Linked DNA regions of Homo sapiens: regions 1, 2 and 3 are each reported to be linked to region 4. The links are microRNA targets in miRTarBase. Many come from high-throughput screens and were not tested one by one. Region 4 holds a microRNA gene; each other region holds the end of a gene's coding sequence.

Region 1 (3,148 bases), not on the chromosome of region 4:
GAGTCAACCTGGCATGTTCGGGGACTGTCCTCACTTCTAATGGAAGGATGCACAGTTCTTGGAGGACTTACAGAGTGCAGTTCTGGGCATTACTTACTTTACAATCCCAATGTTTGCAGATATGACCAATGTGGTATTTTTTATGTAAAGCCCTGGACCAAGGGCAGCAGTGAGGGGCATCCTGCTCTCAACTCTCCTACAGACACTGGCTTGGCCAGAAAATGGGTTCAGAGATCAGGCCCTAAGAATCCAGAGATGATCCCATTCCCTCAACAGTTCTTGGTGACAATCACCAGTCTCTCCTTCTTGTAGGGCTTGAGATATAAATCGTCCACTTCTAGTTTTTACAGACATTCTCAGTTTCTATTGCCTCCATTGGTAAGACCTTGTCCTAGAAGCAGCTCTACCAGGACACCTGAACCAGGAAACAAATAAGGCTTGAATTTGGGAGTCTGGCATGATAGATTCGATTACATTCCCCAAAAACAATCTATGAAGGAAAAGGGATTTTGTTGTGTTCTGTTTTCTTTTAGAGACAAGGTCTTGCTCTGTTGCCCAGGCTGGAGTGCAGTGGTACAATCTTGGCTCACTGCAACCTCAGCCTCCTGGGCTCAAGCAATCCTCCCACCTCAGCCTCCCAAGTGGCTGGAACTACAGGCTCATGCCACCATGCTGGCTAGTTTGTGTTTGTAGAGACAGGATCTGGTTATGTTGCCCAGTCTGGTCTGGAACTCCTGGCCTCAAGCAACCGTCTTGCCTCGGTCTCCCAAAGGAATCTTTTCTAAATAATAATTATAGGCTTCTTATCTTCCCATCATTGAAGTTTTAATTCACAGGACAAAACAAAATAGGCCTGAGTCCAAGGGCCCCTCGTAAAATGTTTCCATGTCCTCTTACATAGACTCACTTCCACCCTACCTAATTCAGCAAATTAAACCCTGGGGATCATTCTCCCCAGTTCTCCCTGGAGTACCACTCAGGCATGTCTGAAATATGGTAGATTCAGTGGACACACCTTTGGCCTGTCAAAGTACCTTCCCAGACTGAGAATAGATCATGACCAGACACCTGAAGTCCATACTGGAAGGAATGTTTATGTTCAAGACCAGAGCCTTGTGGAATGGAAAAAAAAATCCAGGGCAACAGGTTTAAGACCCATTAGGAGACAATATTGTCGTCATGAATATAAATGAGGCCTAGGCAGGTTGGGAGTAGCTAGTGTCTTGGCTCTGGCACAACCAGGCCCTGTTCCTCCACAGGGCTGGCCAGGGCAGAGGTGAAAGGGGCTGGGGTGTGACCGAGTGAGCTGGGGTAGAGGTAGAAAAAGGGACACAGAACATCCCAGGCCTAAGCTACATGGAGTATGAGAGAACAGCTGGAATGTGCTCTAGAAGCCCTGGGAGAAGGCCTCAGTTGAGGCTGAATTCAGATATGCCTGGGACCCGGTCTCTGTTAAGAGACCCCGGAGAGCTGGTGCAGAGCTGATGTGGGCAGCTGAACAGGGCCAGGCAGGGGCAGAGGCCAGGTGTGGGAGGGTGTGAGCACAGTGTTCTTCACAAGACCATAAAAGTCCAGCTAGAATGTTCCGTTTCTAAAATCAGATGGGAACATTCTTCCTCCAGTTCCAAAAGTAAAAATCTGAGAGCAAAAGGTTCTGGCAAAGGGAAAGTGGGGCCGGAGAAGGGACAGACTAAGTAAGCCCCAGGGGATGAGAAGCCCTAGGAGAGGGTGTGCATCTTCTACCATGGTGAGCACAACACTGTCCCCTGCAGACACAGGGACAGCAGGGACTTGAAGCCACAGCCCCCCTCCTCAGCACAGGAAGGTGACCTGTACATAGGATAGGACTCCTTATCCTCACCAGAGGATGCAGTAGGGTGGACAAGAGCAGGTGAAGACAGTACAGGAGCCCAAATTCTAGGTCCAATGGTAGTTTTTATTCCCCAGGAACAAAGATAATGTGGAGAAGAAACTCCAAAAGGAAACAGAGCACGGATGACAGAAATGACACCACGGCAGCCTGGCTCAGGAGTCAGGTAGATAGATGGCTGCTCCACAGTGGACCCGGTCATGGCCCTGGTTTCTTGGATCCACATTTGCCCCGTCTCTTAAGTGTCCATCTCAGAGGTGGAGGATGGAGACAGTGAGGTGGAAAACGTGCTTGCTCTACACAAAGACAAATGGATCTTCTATTCCCAGAGGACCAGGGACACCAAAACCTCCCTCTTCAGAATGGAGGTAGACAGATAAAAATGAGAGGGGCTTGAGTGTCACAGACAATCTGAAAGTAATAATAGGGGCTCACTGTGGCTGGCAGAACTGGTACTGAAATGGGGACTACAGGGGAAGCAGCTTCCAGTTTTATGGTGGAGAGTCAGTCCTGAATCAGGCCCTGGGGCAATTATAACCAGAGTGCTGTTTCTAGCCACTTACTTCAAAGGACTATGGCTATGTTGAATCAGAAGCCATTATCTTTTTCCCAGAGGATGCACTTCCATCCCTATTTCTGGCATGATCCTGCTCCCTACGAGCCTGATCCTTTAAAAAACAGATTGGCAAGCGACGAGAAAAACGGTGCCTCACATGCTTGAGATGTGACAGCTTCTCCTGCAGGCAAGAACCTCTCAGAACAAGGTCCTTTGGTATGAGCTAGATCATCCAGGCCTGTCCCTGCAGAACACACCAAGACTCATCCCTGTACTACAGGGTGGCCTCTGGCTATGGCCTGGCACAGTGAGGACAGAGGCGGGGTCCTGAGTCAACATCACAGGGAGGTCTCCTGGAGGATGCAGGTGGAGCTGCTCCCCTGATAGGCTGTGCCATCCAGGGCCATGGCCTCCTTGTCTCTGCTGTCCCCCAGCACACCATTCCTCGGCTTCTCAGGAAACAGGCCAGTGTCGAGGTGGTCCTGCAAACACAGAGCCAAAGGGGTGGAACTGGTGAAGACGGATGACGGGTGCTTGACAGGATTCACACAAAAAAGGTCCCCGCCAGAAGGGAGCCCAGCAAGGCTGGGTTCGGGAGGGAGAGCAGGGGGAAAAGAGGGAGGGCATAGCACAGCAGGGAGCACAGGGTGGGCTGGGGAGGGGAGCTGACTGGCCCAGGCTGGGGCTGAGCTCCTCTGAGCCCTGAGATCCTTCTGCCCACC
Region 2 (3,127 bases), not on the chromosome of region 4:
ACAGGCCCTCACCCTGCTTGGTCCCTGCAAACTTGGCTTTCCTCTGTCTCCTCCTGCAGTGGATGGAGATGGGGAGAGGCTGCGTGGATTTGTCGTATTAAATGTGCCTCCTCCCTGCACAGGTGGGATCCCACCAGGACATCACCGAAGACAGCTTTTCCCTCTTCTGGTTGCTGGAGCCCCGGATAGGTACTGGGGAAGGGGAGGGAGAACAGAGGTGTTCTGGGCCCCAGAAGGCGACCCCCACTGCAGCCTCTCAACAGAACTGTAGACTAGCCACACCCACCCTTCCCTAGAGATCGTGGTGGTGGGGACTGGAGACCGGACCGAGAGGCTGCAGTCCCAGGTGCTTCAAGCCATGAGGCAGCGGGGCATTGCTGTGGAAGTGCAGGACACGGTGAGTCCCGGGACTGGGGCATGCTGCGGGGAGCACAGGCCTGGCGCTAGACAGGCTGATGCTGGCCTTTTCTTTGCAGCCCAATGCCTGTGCCACCTTCAACTTCCTGTGTCATGAAGGCCGAGTAACTGGAGCTGCTCTCATCCCTCCACCAGGAGGGACTTCACTTACATCTTTGGGCCAAGCTGCTCAATGAACCGCCAGGAACTGACCTGCTGACTGCACTCTGCCAGGCTTCCCAATGCTTTCACTCTTATCTACCCTTTGGCACTTATCTTGCTTATCAACATAATAATTTATACACTTCTCCCATTTTGTATCAGGTGTGTTGCTGGCCAGGAGCTGATGGCTCACTGGGCTCTTGGAGGGGAATGTGAAGAAACCAAGGAGTCACTTTTTCATCTAGATTACTTAGGATTCCTTGACTTTTCAGAAGTCGGGAAGCAGTATGTTTGCCTGTTGTAGACCTACTTGCTCACATGCAGATTTGAGAGGACCTCAACGGCTTTTCTCACAAAATCGCTGATTGTTTTTCTTTTTTTGAGATGGAGTCTCGCTGTCGCCCGGGCTGCAGTGCAGTGGCGTGATCTTGGCCCACTACAACCTCCACCTCCTGGATTCAAGCGATTCTCGTGCCTCAGCCTCCTGAGTAGCTGGAATTAGAGGCCCCTACCACTACACTGGGCTTTTTTTTTTTTTTTTTTTTCTGGAGATGAGTCTTGCTCTTTCGCCAGGGTGGAGTGCAGTGGCGCAGTCTCAGCTCACTGCAACCTCCGCCTCCTGGGTTTCAGTGATTCTCCTGCCTCAGCCTCCTGAGTAGCTGGGACTAGAGGTATGCATCACCACGCCCAGCTAATTTTTGTATTTTTAGTAGAGAAAGGGTTCACCATGTTGGCCAGGATGGTCTCGAACTCCTGATCTCAAGTGATCCACCTGCCTCCCAAAGTGCTGGGATTACAGACGTGAGCCAATGTGCCTGGCCGAGAGAGATTCAAGTTAGGGAATATATATGTGTGTTGACCTGGTCCTATATGGCCAAGCTATGGGCTAGCAGGATGCCCTGTGTATGCCAGTCCCAGGGCTTGTTCTTTGACCCCTTGGGAGCCAGAGTCAGATGCTCAGTGTGAGACTGAAACCCCAAGAGCCATAGCTATAGCTATAGTCAGCTGTTTTGTGAGCAGCCTCAGGAGGAACTTTTTGGACCTGGAACTACCCGCTTCCAGGTCCATGGAGCACATTTATCTCGGGGCCTGAGGCTCCCCCTGGAAATGAGGGTGCTGTTTTTGTGTGCATCTGTGGTAGTGGCAGCTACAGAGCCCCACCTGTCTGTTGAAAGATCAGGCATCACTTTTTTCTTTCTAAACTTTTATTGAAAAAAAAACCGAGGAGGTGTGCTGGATCCCTTTTCAGAAAAGCCGCTTCTCATACCTGCAGGCAGAAGGACCACCTGTGAGGTGAGGGCAGGAGAAAGGAGGCATGAGGTATGGCAGAGGCCCCACCAAGGACAGGGTGACTTACGAATGGAGGCTATGGACGCCACCTTCCACCTGGGCTGAGGACGTTCTCTTCTCAAACTTAAGCTCCCCAGAGTACATCATGGCTCTGAAGAAGGGCAGAGGTCAAATGTGGGTAGCTGGCCCTGGACCAGCCCCTCTACCCATGTCCCAGCTCCCCAAGCTCACCGGACTTGGGTCAAGCTCTTGGCACCAATGTCCTGGCATGAGTGTTGGATGCCAGCAATCAGGTAAGGGACAAATTTGTGGATTGACCCTTTGTCCTGCACAGCACCAGACACTCCCTGGGCCACTTTGATTTTGTCAGCTTCACTGCAGGGAGAGGCAGAGACACGGGCAAGGTCACAGCAGAGATGAGACTGTCAGTGCAGGATTAGGGTGGGGTAACTGGCTTGCCTGTCCCACCTGAAATATCTGTTCTGGCTGCTGAGGTGCTTGTCCATGGCATCGAGAGAACCCATACCGCGATATTTCTTTAGCCGGATCCCATCGGAAAAGAAGTATTCACCAGGGGCCTCAGTGGTGGCAGCCAGGAGAGAGCCCATCATGACTGCGGACAGATGGAGTGCTTGGGTTAGAGCCTAAGCAGCACTAGGGAGGGGGTCCCACTGGCCTTCACGGGTACTGGGCCTCACCTGTGGAGGCCCCAAGGGCCAAGGCTTTCGCAATATGACCCACATTTTGGATTCCTCCATCAGCAATGACCGGAACACCAAAGCGCCGTGCATACTCTGACACCTTGTACACTGCTGTTGCTTGGGGCCGCCCACAGGCCAGCACTGTTGAGATGGAGGAACACATGGGTGGATAGGGTTAATGGGGACGGGCAGTGGACCCTGTGGCCATATTTAGGACCCAGGAGCTTTTGGCTACATCTGCATCAGGACTGCAGCTTGGCTGAGGAACAGACGTGTCTGGGATGGCTGCTGCCACATCTGCCTTAAATAGTACAAACAGCTGTGCTGACCTCTACTCACCCCCACATGTGCACGTGCATGTGTGCAGTGCCCAGGGCAGCCTCAGGCACATGCAGTCTTAGCAGCCGGGAAAGCCCCCGTCCAGCTGGTATCAGATGGGGCAGGAGTCACCGTGCAGTTAGTCCCCAGAGGCACTGAGGTCAGGCCCAGCCCTTCCTCCCTGAATGGTGGGCAGCTCAGGCAAGATAAGGGCAGTGGTTGTGTAGGAGAGCAGGCTGTGGTTGTGTGGAGCAGGCAGT
Region 3 (3,000 bases), not on the chromosome of region 4:
TCTCTACTAAAAATATAAAAATTAGCCGGGCGTAAGGACAGGTGCCTGTAATCCCAGCTACTCAGGAGGCTGAGGCAGGGAGAATTGCTTGAACCCGGGAGGCGGAGATTGCAGTGAGTCAAGATTGCACCCCTGCCCTCTAGCCTGGGCAACAGAGCAAGACTCTGTCTCAAAAAATAAAATAAAATAAAAAGTTGTTTGAAAACTAAAACATCCTTTCATCATCCTTATACTTTAATAGATATTATGTATTAAATGTTTACTTTGTCTTAACTGTAAACCAATTTATAGTTAAATAATTTTTTAAATTTCTTTGCCTTAATTAGAAATCACTTGTTTTAATTTAAAAAATTTTAATTATAAAAGCTCGGGTTTTCTGTAATATTTGTATATGTACACAGGTTCTAATGTCTGCTTTTTTTTTTCAGGATACTATTTTTGAGACAACAAATTAAGGAACTTGAAAAGCTAAAAAATCAGAATTCCTTCATGGTGTGAAGATGTGAATAATTGCACATGGTTTTGAGAACAGGAACTGTAAATCTGTTGCCCAATCTTAACATTTTTGAGCTGCATTTAAGTAGACTTTGGACCGTTAAGCTGGGCAAAGGAAATGACAAGGGGACGGGGTCTGTGAGAGTCAATTCAGGGGAAAGATACAAGATTGATTTGTAAAACCCTTGAAATGTAGATTTCTTGTAGATGTATCCTTCACGTTGTAAATATGTTTTGTAGAGTGAAGCCATGGGAAGCCATGTGTAACAGAGCTTAGACATCCAAAACTAATCAATGCTGAGGTGGCTAAATACCTAGCCTTTTACATGTAAACCTGTCTGCAAAATTAGCTTTTTTAAAAAAAAAAAAAAAAAAATTGGGGGGGTTAATTTATCATTCAGAAATCTTGCATTTTCAAAAATTCAGTGCAAGCGCCAGGCGATTTGTGTCTAAGGATACGATTTTGAACCATATGGGCAGTGTACAAAATATGAAACAACTGTTTCCACACTTGCACCTGATCAAGAGCAGTGCTTCTCCATTTGTTTTGCAGAGAAATGTTTTTCATTTCCCGTGTGTTTCCATTTCCTTCTGAAATTCTGATTTTATCCATTTTTTTAAGGCTCCTCTTTATCTCCTTTCTTAAGGCACTGTTGCTATGGCACTTTTCTATAACCTTTTCATTCCTGTGTACAGTAGCTTAAAATTGCAGTGATTGAGCATAACCTACTTGTTTGTATAAATTATTGAAATCCATTTGCACCCTGTTAAGAATGGACTTAAAAGTACTGCTGGACAGGCATGTGTGCTCAAAGTACATTGATTGCTCAAATATAAGGAAATGGCCCAATGAACGTGGTTGTGGGAGGGGAAAGAGGAAACAGAGCTAGTCAGATGTGAATTGTATCTGTTGTAATAAACATGTTAAAACAAACAAAAATTGTTATTTTTCTTTTCCTTCGGTCAGTGCACATTAGCATTTGAACTACCTGGGGATTCTTTATCAGAACTGTTCTTGTTGAATATTTATACTTAATTGAAATAATTCCTTAAGGGAGGTTTTGTTTAAAACGTATTAACAGGAAATTGTGTATGAGATATTTAATGAAATAAGAAATTCAACAAGAATGATTAAGTCACTTCCCAAGTGGTTGTCATTTGTTAAACCCTGGTTTACCTGTCTTGCTATTATGACATTTCATTTGGAAGGATGTTTGTGTTGTAGCTAACTGTTCAAGTCTGGTGCTGACTGCTGTTCTTAGCCATCACAAAACGCTAAATTTGTGTAATTGGAGCTTCCTGCTGTTATCTGGAAATAGCAGGAAAGCGCAGCTTTGTATATTGTTTCCTAAAGTATATTAAAATAAAAAAAGAAACTATTGCTACTATAAAATTACCTTGACTTTTTTTTTCCTTTGCTGAAATATTAGTCACATAGCCTTAGCTTCACACTGCCAGTAATGTATCAAATCACAAGGGTTTCCGCATGAAAAAAATCTTTTCTTCCCCCACAAAAAAACCTTTACCATCAAAATCTTGCCATCTGATTTAGAAAGGTGTTTCTTCTTCTTCTTCTTTTTTTTCTTTAAATTGGTTTAGGGTTTTTTGGTGATTTTTTTTTTTTTTTTTTTTCTGTTGGGGCAGATAAGTGCTTCCAAAACTGGCAGCACCAAGGGCTTATTTTTTATGTTAGACATCAATGTCAATGTTACTACATTCTCGGATGCTAACATAAATTTTGAAATTGCTCTTGTGCTTTAAGCATATATTGAAAGTATGGAAGTTAAATGTTCAGGCTTTTCAGTAAGCTCAAAAAGTTAACTGTAAGCGATAGTGTTGGTGTTTTCTAAAATACAAAAATGTTCCAGTGTAATTAAAAGGAATTAAAATCTTGAAGATATTTTCCTGTAATTTAAGGATACTTTTTAAATGTAAGAAAAGACATGTCATTAATTTATTGTCATGTTTATACCTCTGTGAGATTGTTAACATCTGCTGAATTTAACTAGTGCATGTAAATGAAACCCCAAAGAGCTGTGTGTTCAGCTAGAAACCTTACTGTATCTTTCCTGGAAAGAAGTGAGCAATTTGTTGTAATAGGCAAATGTTTCCTGATCAGATGGCAATTTGTGATTTAGGTAAATTTGAATTTGATTTGCTTATAGTCTACTGGTCTGTGTACCTATGTTTTGTTTTTCAAAAAAGTTTACATCCCTAAATGAATTAGTCACATATATTTAGGAGAAGATGCCTAATTTGGTATTTCTTAATAGTGAATTTTTTTTTTTCTTGAGACAGAGTTTCACTCTTGTTGCCCAGGCTGGAGTGCAATGGCACGATCTCGGCTCACCGCAACCTCTGCCTCCTGGGTTCAAGCGATTCTCCTGCCTCGGCGTTCCGAGTAGCTGGGATTACAGGCATGCACCACCACGCCTGGCTAATTTTGTATTTTTAGTAGAGATGGGGTTTCTCCATGTTGGTCAGGCTGGTCTTGAACTGCCAACT
Region 4 (3,148 bases):
CCCAACTACATTATTTTTAAAACAATATTAAGTCTGCAGGAAATTTGCAAACTCAGTTCAAAGTTATTTTTTTTACCAGAACCATCTGACAATAAGATTTCTATATGATACCCTGTCACCCTCCAAAACATTGATATATATTTTGTGCACATGAGGGCATTTTTCTGCATAATCACAATACAAACCATAAAAATAAGGAAATTAACAATGATATATTACTACCATCTAAGTTTTACACCTCAATGAAGTTTTGTGAGAGCCACTAATAATGTCCTTAATAAGGAAAGGATCCAGTTCAGAATTATCAGTGGCCTTTATTTGCTATGTCTTTAGGCTCCTTCTTGAACACTTACTCAGTGTTTCTTAGATTCTCATTGTTTTGATGTTGTTGAAGGATATCGGCCTGTTGTATAGAATGTCCCTCAATTTGGGTTTATCATTTGTTCCTCATAATTGGATTCAGGTTTTGCATCCTTACAGGAATATCACAGAAGGGATGCTATATTCTGCATGTTGCATCTGATTAGGTGGTACGTGATTTTGACTTGCTTCATTATTGATGATGTCCACTTTAATCGTTTGATTAAGGTGTTACTTACAAGACTTCTTTGCTGTCACATTACTAATTTTACTTGGTAGTCAGAATTGGAAGCTATGTAAATATTTCTCATCAGTCTCTGTGTCTTTATGGCATAATACTGATTATCATGAAAAAAATTGAGTGTTTTCTTTTTGTTTTTGTTTTTTTTTCTGGAAAGAAAGGAGGCAGACAGATTAGCTAGCAAGACTGCCTTTCTTTTGTTTATGTAGGTCACATAATTTAGTAGCTAAGCTTGATTTTTGAAAGGAGACATTTCTTTAAAGTGCTCAATAATTTGTTTAAAGTTCTAGGGAAACGACAGTGTTATTTATCCTGTTAACTGAATGGCAAAATAAAGCAGTGTACTTGCTGTTTATCCTTTCAAAGACTTAGATTACTATTAGCTTTCTTGATTTATTAAAAGAAATAAGTATTGAGCACCTACTGCATCTTACACCTAGGAGAAGAAAAGTCTTGTGAATAAACTCACATGCTACAAGAAGTGTGGTAGGTGCCCTGTTGAAAGAACAGGTCTCACAGGGGAGAACAATAGAGGAGATACTTTGTTGTGATCTTGGTAAATAACTGTGACCTGAGGGGGAAGTTTCAGGCACCCAAGGCAGGCTGTATTTGGGGGAGTGAAGAGTAGATAAAATATTGGTACCTGATGAATCTGAGGCCAGGTTTCAATACTTTATCTGCTCTTCATTTCCCCATATCTACTTACTGTAGGTACGGCCTCATTAAAAAATATAAACTCTCTGAAGACAGAACATTTTGTTTATTTATTCTTTGATATGTCCCAAGTGTCAGATATGGTACATAGCAGCTGGTCATGGCTATCAAATAATCATTTATCAAATAGTGACCCAGAAATTAGGTGGGTTTCCAAGTCCATTAATCAAATTTCTTTTGTAACGTAAGAAAGATTTAGATATCATTTCCGTAGTGATTTTTTTTTTCTGGTGAGAGTTTCACCTCCGTTTATTATTTTTGTCCTTTTTTTCTATCTCGTGGTTACTTTCCATATCTCCTCAGTACCTTGCCATCATCATATCCTCGGGATGTCCCTGCTGCTTGTGTTCAGTTCCTTGAAGGTCTTAAGAACCTTGAAAATTTAACTTTTCAAAGTCAAATCAGGGTTTCAAATTTTGCTTACTTATTTTAATTGTAACTGTACTGGCAAAATTAATCAAGCTCACAATGAAGAAAAACCGATACTGCAGAATCTCAGTGGAAATGAATACACCCTTCTGGGTGCTTATTTCATTCTCCTGAACTTTCACTGTGTTGAAGGCATCTTTTGAGATTTTAAAAATAGAACCATTGCCTTGACATTGATCTCTCTATTGCTTCTGTAGCGTAATTGTAGTTTATACCCTTCTAGATGATCTGGGAAATCATTTGAGTTTTCTGAAAAACTGAAAACTAGATTTGATGCTGCATGTGAACATTTTTGGTACTACTTTTCATTTATGTATTTTAAACAACTTTATTCTGAAAAGTCCAAAACATAGTGAACAAATACAACTGAGAGAAAATATCTTGGTGCAGAATGACCTTTTTTTTTTTCCTTTTCTCAATGTGGATATCATTTCAGTCCATAATCTGTGTATTACTTATCAGATATCATGGCCAGGGAAGAGAACAGCATAATTTTTAGTTGACAAAGCACTTTTATATATTTAATCTCATTTAATCTCTGCAGTGTGCTTGTAAAGTATCGTAAGTGTTTTTAGAGATGAGGAAGCTGGGCCTCAGAGAGAATAGGTGGCATCATTAAGATCATACAGCAAATTGTGGAATTGGGGTTTGAAGCAAGCCTCTTGCCAAACAAATCAGTGAAAACAATGATTGGTGCATTTTTATTTTGAATGGTGACCTTTATATTTTCAGTGTTGTTTGTTGTTGTTGTTTAATAAGTCTTGGTTAACTATATTAGCAGTAGTCAGAGATCACATTTGATATCCCAAGATTTTTTTAAGAGCATTTGCTATCAAAATGTTCACTATCATTTTACCTACTAAATTTTGCAGAATGAAATTCTTTGCAACCCACCTGACCAAAGCAGAGCATTCTTTGTATCAGAAATATTAAATGGGAAAAGAGGCCTATTGATGTTGGTGTTGGGAATAAGAAAAGGAACTCCAACACCCACCCCCCTCATCTCCCATTATCATCTCTGTGTAGGATTCTCTCACAGTCCAGGCATTCTTTTCCTCAGAATGGATGGGGCCAACAAAGGATGCAGTGTTATAGGTTTCTCTACTGTGCTGGCCCCTTCTCAAGGCTCCCATTCTTGGAGGAGAGAAAAGAGTGGGTTTGGGTTGCAGGCTGGTATCAGGAGAGATCTGGAGTGCAAACATGACAGCCTAGTGTGTCCCCACACCTCAGACCTGTTATCCTCTCTAGAGGTCTAAAAGACTCTGATGTCCTCAGAATCCAGGATAGCAAGGATGGAGGTGGGCTTGCACCGTTCAACTTTTAATTATACTTGCACTGTTTCTGAAGCTCATTTTTTAAGAAGCTACTTACAATTTTCTTGCATTGGGATGTGTTTTACATTGG

What was found. The annotated mature microRNA hsa-miR-577 reads UAGAUAAAAUAUUGGUACCUG and lies in region 4 at 1,227-1,247, shown strand. An mRNA with a match to its seed (bases 2 to 7 or 8) in the 3' UTR can be bound and repressed. Matches are read on the target gene's strand: a 7mer-m8 pairs with bases 2 to 8, a 7mer-A1 pairs with bases 2 to 7 and ends in A, and an 8mer does both.
Region 1: miRTarBase lists SLC5A6 as a target of hsa-miR-577. Seed matches in the 3' UTR shown: 7mer-m8 at 2,245-2,251.
Region 2: the mRNA of NDUFAF3 is a reported target of hsa-miR-577. Seed matches in the 3' UTR shown: 7mer-A1 at 651-657.
Region 3: miRTarBase lists WAC as a target of hsa-miR-577. Seed matches in the 3' UTR shown: 7mer-m8 at 1,125-1,131.

What each region holds. Positions count from the first base shown.
Region 1 is chr2:27,197,672-27,200,819 of GRCh38, forward strand. SLC5A6 (solute carrier family 5 member 6) reads right to left here. Exons shown (of 17, transcript NM_021095.4): 17 at 1,916-2,908. The coding sequence ends at 2,765. Among named protein-coding and RNA genes, the nearest start is that of ATRAID, 13 kb to the right of the region's middle. RefSeq lists a silencer at 196-396.
Region 2 is chr3:49,022,580-49,025,706 of GRCh38, forward strand. NDUFAF3 (NADH:ubiquinone oxidoreductase complex assembly factor 3) reads left to right here. Exons shown (of 5, transcript NM_199069.2): 3 at 123-189; 4 at 297-397; 5 at 477-916. The coding sequence ends at 593. It overlaps IMPDH2 (inosine monophosphate dehydrogenase 2), which reads right to left. Exons shown (of 14, transcript NM_000884.3): 10 at 2,547-2,690; 11 at 2,317-2,461; 12 at 2,080-2,223; 13 at 1,916-1,999; 14 at 1,746-1,825. The coding sequence ends at 1,804. Among named protein-coding and RNA genes, the nearest start is that of NDUFAF3, 2.0 kb to the left of the region's middle. RefSeq lists a silencer at 2,689-2,828.
Region 3 is chr10:28,619,109-28,622,108 of GRCh38, forward strand. WAC (WW domain containing adaptor with coiled-coil) reads left to right here. Exons shown (of 14, transcript NM_016628.5): 14 at 429-3,000. The coding sequence ends at 498. Among named protein-coding and RNA genes, the nearest start is that of BAMBI, 57 kb to the right of the region's middle.
Region 4 is chr4:114,655,548-114,658,695 of GRCh38, forward strand. It overlaps MIR577 (microRNA 577), which reads left to right and starts at 1,212; the gene lies at 1,212-1,307. All of the region lies in intron 2 of UGT8 (UDP glycosyltransferase 8), which reads left to right.